Homo sapiens: one gene and its partners. The protein of the gene in region 2 purifies or fractionates together with the protein of the main gene of each other region. This does not show direct contact. Each region holds a gene or a part of one and is shown on either strand. Other genes may lie near its edges.

Region 1 (5,105 bases), on a different chromosome or scaffold from region 2:
TTAAAATAAGAAAAGAACAAACTTTTTCATCTGACAAATATTTCCCAAGGTTTGAAAAAACAACACTGGGCTGTCAAGACTGAGTGAAAAGATTCAACATTGATAACTATTACTTGGATTTAAATAGAATTCCTAGAACATTAAGTTGCATAAGCTGCTTATAGCTTACAAGAGCTATGCTAAATTTAAACTTGCAGATATAAGTTTTTTTCATAATTCTAATTGGTAAGTTATGAAAATGTTTGACTTAAGAAAACGGTGCCTGTTTAATATTATTTTTCTTTTGTAAACAAGTTAAAAACCATTCCCCTAGGAATTCAAAGAAATACCTACATACACATACACTCCCCCACAACTTCCCCATGCCCTTAGGTAAAATTTCTTCATTAAATAGAATATTCTTCATTAAATAGAATTCTTCATTAAATAGAAATTCTTCATATAATAGAATATTCATTAAATAGAATATCATGTCTTCATGATAGCCTTTTTCTTTTTTAAAGCAAAAGCATATATTTATCTACCCCATATTCCCAAATAGAAATATTTCTACCCCCAAACTAAAGAAAGAAATGTTATTTCCCTTGAGTCACTTGGGCTAGAAGGAATAAGCCTACTGCCAGAATTGAACATAATTTTCTATCAAAGAACAAAGCTGAGCGCATTTCCCTTCCAGAAGGTGAGAAATTTTTTTTTTTTCTGGTCATTTAACTGCCTTTAACCTCTAGATCCATATTAATTTGCATGTTTGAATAAAAAGAATGAAATATCCTTCTAACCCAAATATATACTTCCTTATCCTTGACAAACAGATCTCAGCCACTTCCTGTGATGTTTCATTGCACTAAGTTGAGATCCTTTGCTCAGGAAGTTTCTCAAGTGTAAAAATATTGGATAAGAAAACAGAAACTAATCTTCAAGTCTGAACTGCATTTAGGCTAAATTGCTTAAAAACAAATGATCAGGGACACAGAGTTCCATCTCAGTGGCAGGTTCTAAGAGCAACTGAGCTATATGACAACTAACATCTCAGGAGAAAACTCTTCCAATAGTGTTATTTTTAAAACTTTAAAGGTATAGACCAAACTTGTCAAGTACATTTTTTAGTATTTATTTCTGGTCTGTTTCAACTCTCCTAATGACATGAAAGTGTTGTGATTGTTTTCTCTTAAAAGTCATCAACTGCTTGGGAGGCCCCGGTGGATCACCGGGTCAGGATTTCGAGACCAGCCTGGCCAGCATGGTGAAACCCCGTCTCTACTAAAAATACAAAAATTAGCTGGGCGTGGTGGTGCGTGCCTGTAGTCCCAGCTACTCAGGAGGCTGAGGCAGGAGAATCGCTTGAACCTGGGAGGCGGAAGTTGCAGAGAGTCGAGATTGTGCCACTGCACTCCAGCCTGGGCAACAGAGCGAGGCTCCAACTCAAAAAAAAAAAAAAAAAAAAAAAGTCATCAACTGCTTTGAAACCTTGAAAAATCTGTAGCATTGAAGAGGGCAGTAACCACAGCATATGCAACCATGAATCCCTAATGCCACCTCACAGAGTGCCCAGCACTTGACTGGTGATTAGCAAATGTCTGCTAAGTGAAGGAAGAAAGAATACTGTTTCCAAAAACCTTGGCAATCTCATTGAGAATGTCTTGGTATTTATTTTCGGATGACACGTGTCCAGTCTGTTCCAACGTCCGAAGATTCCTCTGGATTTTCCTCTTCTTCTGCTCAAGAGGCAGCTGTGCATCTTCAATCATAGATTGGCTATGCTTCATTTCTTCTGGAGTCCTGGAATCTATCATTGCACGGCTCACCATGTCCGTGGCATGGTCTACCTCCTGAAAAGAGAATATCAAGATGCTGAGTTTTCTCTGATCCCCTAATTTCACAGTTCATAAGCTACACAATGCAAGTTAATGTCAAAATGAAAGTAGTCCTCCAGCCAAAGTTCAGAGACTAGAACCAGAACATGTTCTTCCTGAGTTTTGAAGTAGGTCTTTGAAAGGAATTACTTCATCTTTTCGATAGCAAGCCTTATTTGGGAAAAATTCTCAATAGCTACTTTATTGCCAAGGTGACAAATCACTATAGTAATGGACATATTTTAATGGATAACTGCTACTTTGTTCCCCACATGGAAGGATTTCAATTCCTGGATAGGCTAGCTGAGGAAACTAAAACTAGATTACCTATTGAAATGTGGCTATGAGAACCCTGAATGTTCAGAACCCAGCTAAACTCTCACACATCAGCCATGTTTATGGAGAGTCCTAAACTAAACCAACAGTAAGGCAGTCAGAGAGCTTTATTCTTATAAGGGAATCACAAACCAGCAACTCTGAAAAACTTGCAAAGTTTCTTTGAGCCAAAGGGAATAAGAATATTCTAGCACATTATAAATTCCCAAACGATGAGTAAATGAATGAATGAATGAATACTCTTTGGATAGTCTGTTCAAGGAAACAGTAACAAAAAGAGACTATTGGTCTTCCCATTTCATTGTACTAGACAATTGACTGACCCAATAGATGAAGTCTAAGGAAACGACTATTAGTTAGGGACAGTAATCTTAGACACAGGACAGGTAGGTCAATATTATTGGAACATTATTACCAGGTTAGCAGTAAATAACAAAAGCAGCAGCCAACATTGTTGAGCACTTAATGTGCACCAGATACAGATGTACCCACTTAACATGTTTAATTGACTTAATCCTGCCTGTGAGCTGGGTACTATTATTATACCCATTTTACAGTTGAGGAAACTGCGGCACAGCAATGCTTCTAAGTGCACAGAGTTACACACCTAGGAGGTGCAGAGGTATAGTTGATCTCAGAAGTCTGTGTTCTTAGTCACTTATTCATGATACATTTAGGGGAAAATGAAAAATAGTAAGGAGTAAAAGTCTTTTATACTAACCTAGTATAATATTTTACCCACATTGTTTAAAACATACCCACATATTAACAAACGTGTGATTTGAAGTTTTGCTTTACATTTTTTATTAAAAATTTTTAAAAATTAGAGATGGGGGTCTCACTGTGTTGTCCAGGCTGGTGTTGAACTCCTGGGCTCAAGTGATCTACACACCTCAGCCTTCCAAAGTATTGGGATTACAGACATGAGCCACCATGCCCAGCCTTTTATATTTTTTAAATTAAAAACTATTACAAGGATTCCTTGGCAATCAATTAAATTAAGAATGATCCAGGAAAATTATGTGTAGCTGTGCTAAGAAATAGTTAATTAAATAATTAACTTTTGTTTAGGGAGCGGCAATTATTGGTACTAAAATAACAACCTTGAATTTATTTTAGAACGAACAATGACGTATTTTCAAAGATGTTAATAAAAAGCTAAATGCAAGATTGTTGTGAAACCTCACTTACGCTAACATAATGATGCTTTGACTCAGTGGACTCAACATTTGCTTCTGAAGCATTTGGAAAACATCTTTAACATGTGAGTCGCTTATTTGTTTCAAGTTAGTAAATACATAAAATGTGAAAGGTATTTTTCAATATCCTGTCAGCTAGAACTCTCTCAACTGACTTATTTGCCCATTATGATGAACATTTCCGGGCTTTGAAAAACCCAGAACTATCATCCTAGGTTAAGACAAAAGTATATTCGGCATGAATTTGGTGCTGTATTTTCTATTTCATTCCCATTGATACTTCATACAGGTTTATATATGGCTGAACTAAGTCCACTGCAGTAATAGATAAAATTCCTTACTTCCGGACCATGTCAGATACAGTTTCTCTGAGATAATAAACATATGGCATAAAGATTTATGAAGAAAATCAACACCTGTCTATTATTATTTTACACTTAAAGTCAAATTACCTGTTGCGCAGTTGCTGGTGTCTCTAAGATTTCTGTCAATGTGTTCCCTGGCTGGTTCCGGATCACATCAATTATCAGCTTCTTGGTCCTTAACAAACCAGAGAAAGAGACAGACTTTCAGACTGTAGTCCTTATGCACAAAAATCTGTTTCTCCTAAGAGAGTGCACAAACACATACAATACTGAAGCTTCAAAGATAATACCTTAAAATAAAACATTCTTGCGGATATTCACCAGGTCTGCTATAAGGCTCCTGAAAGTTTATGAATGCTTGATAATCAAAGTCTGGGCTTTCTGTGCTTGATGTTGTAGCATTATACTGTCAGTAACATGGGCACAAGTGTATCACAAGATTTCCTCTCTAAATACTTTTCCTTCTTTTTTAGACGGAGACTACTTTTTGATGGGCAGGGGGAGCAAGTGCTGCTGATATGGCCTGCTACTGCAGAGTGCAGGAATGATATCTAATATTCTCCTTTCCTGACTTTAATAGCACCTAGACTTCTGAGCTGGCTTAATACCTCATAAGCCTTTAGGAGCCAGACCAACTGTTACCTTTCCTACTATCAGAAAGCTATTAAAGAGTCTGAAGACCAGTGGGAGCGAACGTTCAGTGTGGGCTGTGGAGGCTTGGTCTGTCAGCTGACACAGCAGCGAGGAGGATGGTGTTCAAGGGCCTGAGCAACTAACAAATAGGGTTAACAAAGAAACCTATTTGTTAGGTCTTCTTCCAGTCTTCAGGTGGAAGAGAATAGAAGAGCTTCTCAGTAAACAGTAAAGAGCTGGAAAATTCTTCTGGAAGTACGAAAACCGTAGTTCTCTCATAGGTGTTCTTTATGGCAATTGGCCACCACTTCCTAGGGAGGCATCATGTTATGTAATTACGTACAAAGGTTTTAACATAAAAGCTAAAGGGTCAAATTTGCTCACTTTTACATAAGGTGGAAACAGTATTATTGGAAAAGGCTTTCCTTCTAAAAAGAAAAAAAAGGGCCAGGCGCGGTGGCTCACTCCTGTAATCCCAGCATGTTGGGAGGCCGAGGTGGGCGGATCACCTGCGGTCAGAAGTTCCAGACCACCCTGGCCAACATGGCGAAACCCCATCCCTACTAAGGATACAAAAATTAGCTGGGCATGGTGGCATGTGCCTGTAATTCCAGCTGCTCAGGAGGCCTAAGTGTGAGAATTGCTTAAACCCGGGAGGCAGAGGTTGCAGTAAGCTGAAATCGTGCCACTGCACTCCAGCCTGGGTGACAGAGTGAGAT
Region 2 (5,105 bases):
GAACTGATGTAAGTACAGTGAGGGGAAGGAGCATGGGTCTGTAAGAACAGCCAATAAAGAACACTCGGCCGGGCGTGGTGGCTCACGCCTGTAATCCCAGCACTTGAGGAGGCCAAGGCAGGCAGATTACTTGAGGTCAGGAGTTCAAGATCAGCTTGGCCAACATGGTGAAACCCCGTCTCTACTAAAAATACAAAAATTATATGGGCGTAGTGGCGCACACCTGTAATCCAAGCTACACGGGAGGCTGAAGCAGGAGAACCACTTGAACCCGGGAGATGGAGGTTGCAGTGAGCCGAGATCGCACCACTGTACTCCAGTATGGGCAACAGAGCGAGACTCCATCTCAATAAAAAAATAAAAAATAAAAAAATTGCCGGGTGCGATGGCTCACGCCTGTAATCCCAGAACTTTGGGAGGCCGAGGTGGGTGGATCACGAGGTCAGCAGATGGAGACCATCCTGGCTAACACGGTGAAACCCTGTCTCTACTAAAACTACAAAAAATTAGCCAGGCATGGTGGTGGGCGCCTGTAGTCCCAGCTACTCAGGAGGCTGAGGCAGGAGAATCACGTGAACCCAGGAGGCAGAGCTTGCAGTGAGCCGAGATCAGGCCACTGCATTCCAGCCTGCGTGACAGAGCGAGACTCCGTCTCAAAAAATATATATATATAGATAAATAAAAAAATAAAAAATAAATAAAATAATAAAATAAAATAAAAATAAAAAAATAAAGAACACTTCTTAGACCAGGAGACCAGGGAAGTCATCCATGAGGAAATAACACTCCAGCTGATTTAGAGAGTATGAGTAGAAGGTAATGAGACAGAGACAGCAGGGGAGAGACAGTCACCTAGAGGAAACTGAATACGCGAAGACTCTCTGCTGACACATTGGCGGCTAGGAGGCTGGAGTACAAGGAGCAGGGAGAAGGCTTCAAGATGAGGCTAGAAAGAGAGACAGGGGCCCGACGGCAGGGCCTTCTTGTCCATGACAGTGATAAGGTTGCTAGCCTGAGAACAATGGGAAATCAGTGACGGTCTCATAGATGCATGTTTTGGAAGAGCACACTGCTTGAGGGTGAGGCAGCTTCTTCAGTAGTCTAAGCAGATATGACAAGGGCTTAGATTGGAGTGGCGGCCATGGAGAGAGAAATGGATGGCTTCAAAAAATATTTAAGAAGTGAAATTGGTAGGACCTGGTCCTGCATTCATTATGAGTAAGGATGGAAAAAACAGAGGATTCAAGGATGACTCCCAAGATTCTGACTTATACCACTGGGATAAGGTGATGCTTTTCCCTGAGATAAGGAATCCTGAGTGAGGGACCAGCTGAGGGGACCAATCACGATCTCAAGGACCAACTACATCTTAAATCATCATAATACGTATTAAGTACCTATATGGTAAATAGAACTTTGTCACACCACCACTAAATTAGAAGACTATACCTGAGAAAGAGAATGTTTGGCACTTAGCACTAGTAAATGAGAACAAAACAGATCCCTGCCCGTGGGTTCGACTTGGATGGAGTGGCTGAACAAAACACCATTGACCTTAACTTTCATGTCGGGCTATCTATAAGGAGCTGTACATTTTCCACTCCCTCTCAAGACTCCTATTAAAAGGCTCAAAGATCCCAATTCAGCAGATGAGCTTTGGACAGATTTATTCTTCGAGCAAAAACAAACAAACGAAAAACTATAGGTTGCTGCTAAGTGGAACACACCATCATCCAAATGACTCCTATTTTTTAATGTTTATACTAGATTCACACCTAGCAAGGTAGAACCCTCAGACTCCACTCTCGGCAGAAAATTCAGCGCATTCAATGACAGAATTGTGTGTTTCAGAATTTCTGAGCCCATCCATTCATGAACAATTGTCTTCAGCTGCCTCTAAGTCCAAGGCGAGCATTTTGCAGGTGAATGTTCATATGGCTCTGACGCACTTGAGCAGCACTCTGCAACTCCCCACCTCAGGAGCCCCGGGCAAATACAATGGCAATCCTACGAGGTTATCTCCGGAGGAGGAATTTTAAAATTAAAATGTTGAGTTGCTATTCTGATTACTCCAGAAATTTGCTCCAGAAGCAAGAGCAATGGTTTTTTTCCTTTCCTCCCACCACCAACAAACCACTGTAGAGCAGGCAGTCTCAACCTTTAAAAGACCAAAACCCCTCTTTAGCTTACATGCACCCTGATCAAGCTACGAACCGTGGTTTGTTTTTCCAAAGGAAGTTCAACTCTATAATTCCGTCTCCATCGTGGAAGAACTCACAAATGACACATAATATACGCCTCATATCGCTTCCCCGGGTTCCCTCACAACTTTCACAAACCCTCAGGGATGTGAACATTATGGTGCCAACTCCGCAGATCTTTCTTGCCTAATAGATGTTTGTGGAACCAAAATTATACGAAAATAAGTTAAAACAAAACAGCCAACTAGTCAGAACAGCAGAGGGGTCATAAGTGTTCTTTGTTATTGTTGTTTTTACAGAGGGACAACGAATAAACAGGACTTGTGGTTAGAAAAGAAGAAGAAAAATGATTATGACCATCTTCAACTTGGGCAGAAATTGTAAAATCTTTCTATGACCCAACACTGTCCTCTAGAGGCCGTATCCAATTTGTTCTTGAGTACAAAAACATGTATAAGCAATGGCATTAAAAACAATAAAATTATACAATAATTCTAAGTACAGAATTCATGGAATGTTTAATATAGACACTATTTTATATTATAAAAGGATTTTATATTTGAATAACCTTTGGATTTTAGAATAGTTTTAGATATACAGAAAAGTTCCAAATATAATACAGAGTTCCCATATACCTCTCTCACTCAGTTTCCTCTATTTTTTTCCAGTCTTACTGAGGTATGATGGACAAATAAAAATTGCATATATTTAAGGTGTGCCACACGATGTTTTGATATACATATACCTTGTGGAATGATTACCACACAGGCTAATTAACTTATCCACCGACTCACTAGTTACCTTTTTTGTATGTGTGGTGAGAATACTTGAGAACTACTCTCTTAGTAAATTTCAAGTATAGAATAATTATTAACCATAGTTACCACACTGTACATCAGAAATTGTTTTTCTTATCACTAAAAGTTTGTACTCTTTGACCAACATTTTCCCATTTCCTCTACCCCCACCCCCGGTTAACTACCCATCTACTCTCTGTTTCCATGAGTTTGACTTTTGAAAATGTAACAGAGATCATGCAGTATTTGTCTTTCTGTGTGTCTGGCTTATTTCACTTAGCATAATGTCCTCCAAGTTCATCCATGTTGTTGCAAATAGCAGGACCTCCTTTTTTAAGGCTGAATAATATTCCATTACATACGTGTGTGTGTGTGTACATATACTATCCACTCATTTGTTTATAGACACGTTGTTTCCATATCTTAGCTACTGTGAATAATGCTGCAATAAACATGGCAATACAGATAGCTCTTAGAGATTCTGATTTTATTTCTTTTGGGACTTATACCCATAAGTGGGATTGTTGGATGATATGGTAATTCTATTTTTAGTTTCTTGAGAAACCCCCGTACTGTTTTCCGTAGTGGCTGTGCCAATTTACACTCCCACCAACAGGTTCCTTTTTCTCCACACCCTCACCAACACTTTTGTCTTTTTGATAGTAGCCATTACAATAGGGGTGAGGTGACATCCCATTGTGGTTTTGGTTTGCATTTCCTTGATGAACAATGATGTTCATATACCTGTTGGACATTTGTACATCACCTTTGAAAAAATGTCAGGTCCTTTTTTCCGTTTTTTTTAATTAGGTCGTTTTTGTTTTTGCAATTGAGTTGTCTGAGTTCCTTATATGTATTGGAATATTAATCCCTTGTCAAATGTATGGTTTGCAACATTTTCTCCCATTCCATAGGTTGCTCCTTGTTTCTTTTGCATGCAGAAACTTTTTAGTTTGATGTAGTGCCACTTGTTTATTTTTGCTTTTGTTGCCTGTGCTCTTAGTATCATATCCAAAAAATCATTGCCCAGACCAATGTCAAAGAGCATTTTCCCTATGTTTTCTTCTAGTTTTATGGCTCCAAGTCTCACATTTAAATCTTTAATCCAGCTTGAGTTGATTTCTGTGTATGGTGTGAGATACGGATCCAATTTCATTCTTCTCCATGTAAATAACAGTTTTCCCATCATCATTCATTGAAGACACTATCCTTTCCCTATCGTGTATTCTTGGCACTCTTGCTGAGGATTAGCTGGCCATTTATGCATGGCTTCATTTATAGGCTTTCTATTCTGTTCCAATAGTCTATATGACTGTTTTTGTGCCAGTACCACACTGTTTTGATTACTTTTGCTTTGTAACATAATTTGTAATTTCATTTGTGATACAATTCCTCTATTGTTAACTCTTACATTATTATGGTACACTTGTCATAACTAATGAATCAATATTAATATATTATTAGTCACTAAATTCCAAACTTTATTTGGATTCCATTAGTTTTTCTAAAATGCATTTTTCAAATATGGTATATTCCAATGTCATAAAAAAGAACAAGAAGAATAGGGTAGATGTTTAATCATGCTGATACCTTGATCTTAAACTTTCAGCCTTTAGAACTGTGAGACAATAAATTTCTATTGTTTAAGCCACTCTGTGTGGTGCACTATCAAAGCGGCTCTAGCAAACATTATAACTAACATATATTCTAAGTGTATATGACATATTTTTAGCCAAAGACTTTGAATCACTATCATCAAGCAGAAGTCTGATCAAGTTTGAATCACTATCATCAAGCAGAGCAGATATTCAGAATTCAGAACTGTATTTCACGCCTGTAATCCCAGCACTTTGGGAGGCTAAGGTGGGCGGATCACGAGGTCAGGAGATCGAGACCATCCTGGCCAACACGGCGAAACCCCATCTCTACTAAAAATACAAAAATTAGCTGGACATGGTGGTGTGCACCTGTAGTCCCAGCTACTCGGGAGGCTGAGGCAGGAGGATCTCTTGAACCCAGGAGATGGAGGGTGCAGTGAACCAAGATCGCACCACTACACTCCAGAGCAAGATTCTGTCTCCAAAAAAACACAAACAAACCAAAAAAA
Region 3 (5,105 bases), on a different chromosome or scaffold from region 2:
GCAGCATACTGTGGCCATCTGAGAACCACACTCCCCAGCAGGCTGTGTGGGGAAGAGCGGGCCATGCTTTGAAAGCTACAGAATTGTTTCCTTGAGTATAAGCACGAGCGTGGCTCTGGAAGAATCCAGTTTCCCTCATTAAGGAGCAAATGAGTTGACCCAGGAAAGTCAGATGCACGGGCCTTGGTCTATGGTGTCCTCGCCAACCCCGTGGTAATCAGGAGCCATGTGCTGATGGTGAGGAGCACAGGACGGGTGAGAAGATGTGTGTGACTGACAGTCCTTCCACTGGGCAAAGGCCAAAAGGCCCTCTGGTTTGTGGGTCTGGTGACGGGGACCACAGGCTTGTGGGTGCCCGAGTGGCTTCTCCTGAGCCCTCAGTCTCCCACTCAGGCTGGCCTTGCCTTCGGCACAGTTGAGGTTCTGGAGTCTGTAGCCATGTCCTACCATTCCTCTCTGTCTCCAAGGTATTCTTAACATATATCATTCCTGCCCCCAGCTCAGGCCAGCTCTAGGGAAACACTACAATGGTGTGGTGGGTCTCCACGGTCCAGGTGCAGCTTGGGCAGAACAGAGCTTCCAGGGTGGCGGCGGCAGTGGCAGACCCGGGTCTCCCCACAGAGGCTTCACCTGCTGCTGCTGTCCAGGTGCTCACTCGGGTCCAGCAGGTGACCACGGGTCTCAACAGGAAGTTCCGTTCTTCTGTTGTCAGTGACTCATAGGACACCACTCAGCCCTGGGAGCTGGCTGGGACTCTGCATTTCACTCCCGACAAGGGCAGGCACTGGTCAGTGGCCAGGGCTGCTCGACACTAGCGGGTCCAGGGCTTCAGCCATTTTCGGTTTGCTACGGCACAGAGCTGAGGCAGCCAAATGGCTCTCAGCCCACTACAGACTACCTGACACACGGCTGTCACAGGGAGAGACATCGCACGACTGTCTCCAAGGATCAGAAGATCAATGGAGCTGGACGAACTGCCCAGAGGTTCAGGACCACGTTCCAGCTTCAGGCCCAGGTCTCTGGTACCATCTCCAGCCTGGCAGAGATCCTTGGTGTAGCTAGGGGTTCAGGGAGTCCTGGGTTTTCAGGGTACGGTGACTGGGAGATGGGGCAGCAGCGGCTATGCATCTTGTGGTTTGGATGTGGCCAAGTCACCCTGAGTTTCACGGGTCTGTGGGTGAGGCGATCGCCCCCAGAGACAGAAGAGCACACGAGGACAGAGCAGACAATGTGCCTTCTAGAAAGGAGGAGCAAAAGCAGAGCCTTCTGGGGAATGTCTCTGTACCTCTCTCTCTTCCTGCCAGAAAGTTTCTGATGAGGGTGCAGAGTGCTGGAATGCATTTTAAGCCCCTTACCCAACCCTACCAGGCTTCCTTTGCTGAAGATGATATGGAGGAGGAAGAACAACGGCTACTTGTGGGGGGTCTCTGCAAAGCACCTGCATGGTCACAGGCGGTATGGAGCAGCCAAAGGGCTGGAGAGCCGGGGTCAGTGCCTTTCTCTCCTTGTCCTCCACTGAGAGGTACAACCCGTGGCCATAGGGAGACACGTGCAGGACCCCATCTTGGCTCAGTGAGCTACCCAGAAGGACCATCCTAAGAATTCTGCCAGCAGCACAGAGAAAGAAGAAACATGCATGGCGTCCAGGAAGATTTCTCAACTTTATTAACAGCCTACCTCGCATTTGCGACAGTGATGTTGACTGCGGCCATGCTCCCAAGCATCGTCCTGGGCATTCTACATGCACTGCCTTTATTTCTAAGACAAACGAGAGGGCTTGGAGAGTGTGTTGGAAGTTACAGATAGAGCTATGAAGTGGGAAACTCTTGACTGCTAAACTCAGCAATACACTCACTGGCCACCTGGTTTCCTTTCTTTAAAATCATGAGACACAAGCTGAGAAGAGCCCACCGGATGTTGATGGTCAATCAAGGAGATGCGCTGTTTACAGTAACTGCACTCAAACAGAGCGTGTATTAGACTGGTCTGTAAGACAGGGCAGGACGTCAACTACTGGAAAGGTGGAACAAAGGCCAGGGAATTAGATGCTGAACTGTCTTTGCGTATTGAAAATGGGTGAAGAAAAGGCAGTTTGTACTTCCTTCACATCCTTCATCAAGAGATCTATAATGCATCCCAGATATTCCAGTAAGATAGCCAAGAGGTAAATTCTTAGATTCTAAAACCTATAAACCTATAAACCTATCACTATAATATCATGGAGAGGTATGCCAAATATTTGCCAAAGTCAATTTGAAACAATATTATAACCTAGCACTGAACTGTCCGCCTTCCACATTCAAACTCTTTAATGGAATTTAGAGATTTTTTTTTTCTCCCAACAAATGTTGATGAAACTCACTTTGGCTGCATGGCTAGCGAGACTAAAACAGAAACACTGGGAGCTGTAGAAAGTGACTGATTTCCTCTGACCATGCAAAGGGATTATCAGGTGGTGAAACTGAGAACACAGGACCCAAAATGAGAGATGGCCTTTGAAAAGTCTGAGATTCTTGCTGAGGCCTCATAAACAGTGACTTTCCTGGAAGAGGGTCTCGACAAACAGCGAAGCCCCCGATGCCCTCCCTCCCCCACAGTGCTGACCCTCAGGAACCCTGGCTGAGTTTGGTTTGCTTTTCTGTAGGAGGATATATTCACCTAACGTGTCCGATGACTTCATTTGTTGCTACTTTTCTAGTTAAAATCTTCAGAATGTAACCAGGCTGTTCCTAGCTCTCTGCCAGAGGAGGCTGTCCAGGCTCCCCCTAATACGGCTGCAATGGGCCCCTTCTATGACGCGCAGGCCTAGAGGGACTGCCAGCAGCTTCGCTGTGGCTAATGCCCTTGTGCAACCTTCCCACCATCCCTGTTCTCGGCTCTGAGGAGCCGCCAGCCTTATGCTCTGTCTCGTGCATTGGCTTCCACTTACAAGGAAGCTGTGGACCAGAGTTCCCAAGTGAAAGACTCTTAAGAAAGACATCAAGGGATATTTTCATTTCCTGGAAGAGCAGTGACCACCTTCTTTCCCAGTGCTCCTGGTGCGCTTAGAGGGCCGCCCATACACTCTGGGTTACAAAGGCTGTTCCCTCTGCGTTCATCAGCGGCCAACCGAGGAGTGCACACCTGGGAGTCCCCAGCAGTGCCTGCCCAGGACACCTGCAGGGAAAGTCCCGGCTGGGCTGTGGCAAAAGCAGCAGGTATTCTGTGTTCATCCTTAGAGGTGATGTTGTTAATTTTCCATGCCCAAAGGAGGGATTCAAACGGTGAATGATTTGGGATTAAAGAATGGGAGACGTGGACACGTATGCTTATTTGACCAGTAGTTTTGTCCACACGAAGCACAAATGTCTTCTCAGTAATTCTGGCTGTTTGCCAGCAGAGACAGCATCATAACCTACAGGCTGATTTGCAGGGTCAAACTCCTACTGCAGACTAATTTGCAACCTGTGCCATTACCTAATCTGGAGATAAAAACCACAAATGCATAAAATGTACAAAGGCTTGGTACTGCCTCCTACTCAGGCTAGATCTGCTTGAAGATCCAGATCGTCAGTAAAAAAAAAAAAAAAATCTGGATTTAAAAAGGGAAGACCAATGAGATAACACCAGGCAGAGCTTGCTGCGCCTGGGATGGCAGAAAACAACTCTTAAAAATGAAAAACAGGGGGCAAGTAAAGCTTCAAGGCATTCACCCTCCCAGCCCATGTGGCCATTTCTGCCATCTACAGAGGCAGATTTTAAACCTAGCTGCTTTTTCGAATCCCAGAGATCCATACGCAGATTCTTAGGCCTGGGCCTGGACATGGTCATTCAGGAGCCAAATTGCTCAAAAGCTCCTTGGGTGATTCTAACATACAGCCATGCTGGGATTGCCAACAGCTCCCATGCCAGACAGAAAACACTTAAAAGAGGAGGAGCCGCTAAGCTACAGGCCAGAGCTGGCCACTGCCGTGACCCACCTTGAACCAGGTGATTCCCATTGGCTTTGGGCGCTTGCAGCCTGTGGCGATGACTCTGGTTGGAGTGAGGATGTAGTCCACAGTGATGTCGTGCTCCTCAACAAGCTCTTCAGGGATGTCCACGACCTGGGGGAAGAGAGGAGGGATAAAGGGGCTGCTGGGAATGCCACTGCAGTCGTGCACACTGCCCCGCTCGGTGGGAACGTGAGGCTGGCTAGAGAAGCACCCCCAAATCCACTCTGGGGCTAAGGCTTAGCCGCTGTACCACTAGCAAGTCCAGCCCTGGCTGATCCACACCACTCGCCACACAGCATGGTTCAGAAGCAGATGAGTCTCCTTCCCCACCCCCTGCTCCCTCAGAAGAGAATGGCAGTGGCTCTGCTCAGCCCATTCATAAGGAGCACCTGGCAGTCGTGGACGATGGTGACCACCGGCGTCTCCTTGCTGACGGCGCCCATGGATACCATCATGGCATATTCCAGATCGGCGTAGCCTTCTCCCTTCCCGATTCTCCAGCCTAAGAGACAACCGAGAATCAGTATCGCTGTGCGGTCCGGGGCATCGCTGAGAAGTGGATTTTCCATCAGGTCCAGTGGAAGAAGAAACTTGAACCCAATATCCCGAGCTAATCTATAGAAATTTTCACAGAAATGCCCACCAAATGCCCACAAGCAGCCCACACTGACGATGGACTTTTGGGCATTCAACAGGAATAACAACACGGCCAATGTCAGGTGGTGAAACTACAATGACGTGAACACTGGACCGTTCAAGCATGTCACAAAGGGAAACAGATCACACTCATGTCAGCTTTATGTTAGCAAGACTCATACTTAAAAAGAATGAAAAGAGCAGTTCTCAAAAAGACTAAAAACAAATTCCCACTGAAAGCAAAACATGTTTAATCAACTTACCTCGGAGGGAAAATCGCTGCTCTGAAGTCAGGAGTGTGTGAGGGCATGGCCTTGTTTCTTCAAAAGCACTGAATACTCACCACTAGATACCAGGTCCTGAGGGACGGTTTAAGCAGTACTAAAGCGTTTTGCAAATTTGTAATTAGTGGCACAACAAAAGGATTATCTGAGCCTAAAAGAGTAGCTAAGATGAAATCGAGGTTTAACAGCCTCTCTAGCCAAATCAGCTATT
Region 4 (5,105 bases), on a different chromosome or scaffold from region 2:
GATCACAAGGCTAAGAGATCGAGACTATCCTGGCCAACATGGTGAAACCCCATCTCTACTAAAAATACAAAAATTAGCTGGGCGTGGTGGCACGAGCCTATAGTTCCAGATACTAGGGAGGCTGAGGCCGGAGAACTGCTTGAACCCGGGAGGTGAAGACTGGCAGTGAGCCAAGACTGCGCCACTGCACACCAGCCTGGCGACAGAGAGAGACTTCATCTCAAAAAAAAATCAGAGTATGAGTCCACCACCGAGGTGTGTAGTAGCTGCTCCCCGTGGATGGGGCAGGCCACAGACCCTGCTACTCCTTTTGATGTCCTTACCACTGCTGCCTGTCAGTTACCGTTTAATATGATTTGTATTTTGTATTATGTTTTATCTCATATATGTTTTTTTTACTCATTTACCTAAACTTCCTGACTCTTGCATGCATCTGAGTTCAACTTGTGCTTATAATGGTCAATGTGAAAAGATTCCTAAAAGCACTGGGCATAATCCCTCCAAAACAGGTCCCAAGAAAACAAAAGGGACAGGATGTGAGGGTGACAGTAATTACCTCATAAAGCTGCTATAAGAACTGAGTTAATATCAATAATTATAAAAGATCTGACATATGGAAGTATTATACATGTTTGCTATTATCGTTTTACCTCATTATCCTCTTTGATTCTGAATAGGAACAGCAGTTTCCTGGCAATCTTGAAAATACAAAGTGCACTTCTTTTAGTGGACTCAGGGTCATCTGCTTTAAAAAAGTCATCAATCTCTCTCCTAGAAAAGAAAGTGCAAAAAAAGACATTTTAAATTAACAGCTTGTAGCACCTGGAAGGCTTTTCAAGCACTTTATGAGAAAAAACTCATTTATCTGCTATTAATTGGGAGCCAGAGAATCATGTGCTAGGGAGATCCTAGCCCTTACCTGATATCTCTCTGCAGTCGACTCCGACAGAGAAAACTCCGGACATGGGCCTGGATCACAACAGCTGCCCGCTCCCGTTCCTTCTGCACAAGCCTTTCTTCTCGTGCCTGACGGGCTCTATCGATGAACCATGCTCTCGAGGTCTGAGACAGGGTGAACATGTTTGCAAACTTGCACAAACCCTGCAAGGAAAATGGGCAAGTGGGTGTTGTAGATTGTTGTGTGAAAAACACACACAGAAAGGGGCTCAAGAGCAGAGGGTGGGCAGGGACCTGGGCAGCAGAGATACTCAGGACCTGTCAACACCCTCCAAAGCGCTAACAGCTCTCCGGCACAAGTCCCTACCTCCTATAGGCTCTTTCATGCAACTCACCAAGACCAGGGATGCTACATCCTATATTAAATAATCACATCTTCTTAAGGGAAAGAGCACAGCACCTGGCATAGGATAAGGGCAGGCCCAGCTTTACGAATGAACAAAGAATGAATCAGTCCCACCCATAAAGCTCTAATTCAAACCAGGTATCCTATAGGTCAAAGATTCCCAGATATTTGAATTTTCTGGAGTAGTCCACAGTATTTGGGAAACCAAAACTGAGAGGTCAGCTTTTATTTTGCCAAGTAAGGACTCGAGAGAAAAATCCAACATGATTATTTGCTGTCATCATCATTGTATTCATCCATTCACTAAACAAATATTTACCAGTGCATACTTTGTGACAGCACACAAAAAAGAAAGGGCCATTTCAACATTAACAAAGCAAAAGGTACACACTTCAGAATGCAAGACAGTCCATTATATTGAAGATATTTGGTTTTATGTATAGCTTATTCCATTGTCCTTACAATTACCATCCTGCCAAGGACCAGTGAAGACTTTACTGTAGAACTGGTCCTGTCCACTAACGGGTGCTTTTCTGAAGAGCAGCTCTAAATTATATACTAAGTTTTTATCTAAATCACCAGTAACTGTTTTTTCCTAAAGGAACAGCTTTTGCTAGCAGCCTAAAGCACACAGCACTGACCCCCGGAGGCTCCCATATTGAGATGATTTCTTTAGATGCTTGATGACATTGCCATTCTATACAAAATGCACAATCAGCCCAGTTAAAAACACTGAAATGAATTATTCAGAAATCCAGACTTCCAGAAAACAATCTCTCTACCAGGCTACTTTACTTGAAGTAGCACCCACATGAAAATATCATCCAGAGTAAAAAGTCGGATGGCTAGAACTAGGGGCCATCTATCCTAAGTGAAATAACTCTGAAACTGAAAGGCAAATACTGCATGACCTCACTTAGAAGTGGGAGCAAAACAATGGGCCCACATGGACAAACAGAGTGGAATAAGATAATGGAGACTCCAAAAGGTGGGAGATGGGACAGGGGTAAGGATTGAACAATTATTTATTGGTACAATGTTCACCATTCGGGTGATGGGTGCCCTAAAAGCCCAGACTCCACCATTACACAATATATGCATATAAGAAACCTGTACCCCCTACATCCATACAAAGAAATTTAAAAATTATTAAAATAAACATTGGACTTAATAGTATTATCTCCTAGAGGTATTAAATTAATTACGTGTTATTGAAAGGCATTTAATAAGTGTGCTCTATTATTAGTATTAATAAGGACAATAAAATAATACCCTTTTATAACCAAAAAAAAGTTGGTGCAAGCCTCCCACCACATGAACATATCAAGGGACCTCTGTGACCCCTTCTCAACAGTGATCTGTCAAACATCATCAGTAATCCTTGAAACAAACTAACAGAGCCCACTTGACCACAGGAGGGAAGGTATTAGGTTGGTACAAAAGTAATTGTGGGTTTCAACTTTTTTAAAAAAACACTAAGTCGTAATTACTTTTGCACCAACTTATAAAAGGCTTGGAGAGAAACGGTAGCCATCTTCTGAATCATTTACGCTTCCTGCCCCAGCAGTAAAGTCTGGAGATCTCACCTGAGGACCTGCCTGTGTCGCAGAAATGCCAGGTAATCATTAGTGATCTTGCACAGGACTCGTGGCTGAGAACAGCTTCTCACTTCAGAAAAGCTTGTTATTTTTTCTGGCAGAAGCAGAAGAAAAAAATCCAGACTTAGGGTTAAATTTTATAGGTGTGGTATCATACATCTTCCTCACTGAGTAAAAGTAGTAACTACAATGCCAATGGTTTTTTAAAAACACCACTGGGTCCTCTTTATTTAATGTCTCATCTAAATGTTATACTGTATCTCTTCAATCCTCACAGTTTAAAGGGAATATGTTGAAAATAAATCCCAAAGTTGTTGTTGAATTACAGCTGTGATGGGAAGCAAAATAACTTAGAGGTCATGGAATGTTAAAGAGCTACTGAAAATTATATTTGACATTTTCCTTTTTTTTTTTTTTGAGATAGTCTCACTCTGTCGCTGAGGTTGGAGTGCAGCGGCATAATTTCAGCTCACTATAACTTCTGCTCCCAGGTTCAAGCGATTCTCCTGCTTCAGCCTCCCAAGTAGCTGGGATTACAGGTGTGTGCCACCATACCCTATCTCAGTTGGGGTTACAGGTGTGAGCCACTGTGCCCGGCCATGTTTGACATTTTTTTTTTTTTTTTTGAGACGGAGTCTTGCTCTGTCGCCCAGGCTGGAGTGCAGTGGCGCGATATTGGCTCACTGCAAGCTCCGCCTCCCGGGTTCATGCCATTCTCCTGCCTCAGCGTGTTTGACATTTTTAATGATAATGGAAAAACGTTTATGCCTTAGAAGTGAATAAAGGGCTGCCTGTGGACCAATAAGACCCCAATTACCTAAAGAAAAATGTACACACACACAGATACAAAACTAGCATGAACTATACCAACATGTTACCAGTGGCTGTTTTGAGGTACTGAAATTGCGGGAAATTTTTCTTAATTGGTCTGTATTTTCTAAATTTTCCACAGCATGCACATGGTGAAGCAGCACTGCACAGTGAGGGGCACACGGGCTTTGGGAGTCACACAGAGTTGGAGCCAGTCCCTAGCTCTGCCACATACTATAGGGAGAATGTCTAAGTCTTTTTTTTTTTTTTAAGGCAGGGTCTCGCTCTGTCATCCAAGCTGGAGTGCAGTGGTGCAATCATGGTTCATTGCAGCTTCTACCTCCCAGGCTCAAGCGATTCTCCCACCTCAGCTTCTCAAGTAGCTGGGACCACAGGTACATACCACCACATCTGGCTAGTTTTTAAATTTTTTGTAGAGGTGGGGTCTCGCTATATTGCCCAGGTTGGTGGTCTCAAACTCCTGGGCTCAAGAGATCCTCCTGCCTTGGCCTCCCAAAATGTTAGGATTACAGGTATGAGCCACCACACTGGGCCCTGAGTCTTTCCATCTTCATCTATTAATTGGCTTAGAGGTTGATAATGAGGACTAAATGTGATGATGCTTATCAGGTACCTATGGAGGTACTTGAGTGCACATTGTAGAGTGTATAGTCAGGAAGTCTAACTGGTGTATTATTTTTATAGACACAAGGATTAAAAAAAAAAAAAAACTCTTCAGCAGAGGCTCCCACCTGGACAGTTACTAAGGTTCTCTGGGTAGGAAATAATGCTGGCAGTCTGACATTTCTCACCCATTAACTTTTTTCCTATCTTAAATGCACTAAGATTCACCAGTCCTGTCCCTTGGGCTATGAACTCCTGGCCCTGTTGTTTAGAGTGAGTAACAGATTCAAGCTCCTCAGGACTGCAAAAGAGCAGGGCCCAAGCCACAAGCACAATGATATGCTCCCTCCATGACATGCAGACAGTGCCTCAATGGCAGAGGGTCCATGGAATTAGAAGGGGAAGAGGGAGCCTCTTCCCAAAAGAAAAACAAAGTTGCATGCAAACTGTACCTAAGCACTGTAAGACGATCTTAAAACTTTCACTTCTCCCAGGGGCCCTCCCAGAATAAGAAATTACTCTTATCCCCTTCCTTGAGATTATTATCCCTTCAGCAATGTTATTGGTTGATTTCTGTTCATATCATATAATAGCCTACACTTTACAGTTTTTCTCATCCTTTCCTATATACCTTCTCCACCTGCACAGTGTATACTATAGTTCGTCAATTAATAAAACACACAATCAAGTGTTTATTAAGTACTTATTTTGCTAAATGCCATGGAGAACCAAAGAAAAGGCTGTGCGCAGCAGAAAAAGTCTTGCATCAG

What was found. The genes of interacting proteins can lie anywhere in the genome.
Region 1: the proteins of DRC8 (region 2) and IQGAP2 purify together in Homo sapiens (affinity purification with mass spectrometry; one large-scale study listed by BioGRID and IntAct). This does not show direct contact.
Region 3: the proteins of DRC8 (region 2) and MTHFSD purify together in Homo sapiens (affinity purification with mass spectrometry; one large-scale study listed by BioGRID and IntAct). This does not show direct contact.
Region 4: the proteins of DRC8 (region 2) and UBE3B purify together in Homo sapiens (affinity purification with mass spectrometry; one large-scale study listed by BioGRID and IntAct). This does not show direct contact.

What each region holds. Positions count from the first base shown.
Region 1 is NC_000005.10:76,692,178-76,697,282, reverse strand, and holds part of IQGAP2 (ras GTPase-activating-like protein IQGAP2), read right to left. Parts: intron 3,929-5,105; coding exon 3,841-3,928; intron 1,830-3,840; coding exon 1,617-1,829; intron 1-1,616. UniProt on the Homo sapiens protein: Binds to activated CDC42 and RAC1 but does not seem to stimulate their GTPase activity. Associates with calmodulin.
Region 2 is NC_000001.11:245,076,730-245,081,834, reverse strand, and holds part of DRC8 (dynein regulatory complex protein 8), read right to left. Parts: intron 1-5,105. UniProt on the Homo sapiens protein: Component of the nexin-dynein regulatory complex (N-DRC), a key regulator of ciliary/flagellar motility which maintains the alignment and integrity of the distal axoneme and regulates microtubule sliding in motile axonemes.
Region 3 is NC_000016.10:86,537,738-86,542,842, forward strand, and holds part of MTHFSD (methenyltetrahydrofolate synthase domain-containing protein), read right to left. Parts: exon of another isoform or gene 4,544-5,105; coding exon of another isoform or gene 4,477-4,543; coding exon 4,364-4,476; intron 4,086-4,363; coding exon 3,960-4,085; intron 3,462-3,959; coding exon of another isoform or gene 3,453-3,461; exon of another isoform or gene 1-3,452.
Region 4 is NC_000012.12:109,479,527-109,484,631, reverse strand, and holds part of UBE3B (ubiquitin-protein ligase E3B), read right to left. Parts: intron 2,996-5,105; 5' UTR 2,890-2,995; intron 1,102-2,889; 5' UTR 1,081-1,101; coding exon 920-1,080; intron 772-919; coding exon 651-771; intron 1-650. UniProt on the Homo sapiens protein: E3 ubiquitin-protein ligase which accepts ubiquitin from an E2 ubiquitin-conjugating enzyme in the form of a thioester and then directly transfers the ubiquitin to targeted substrates.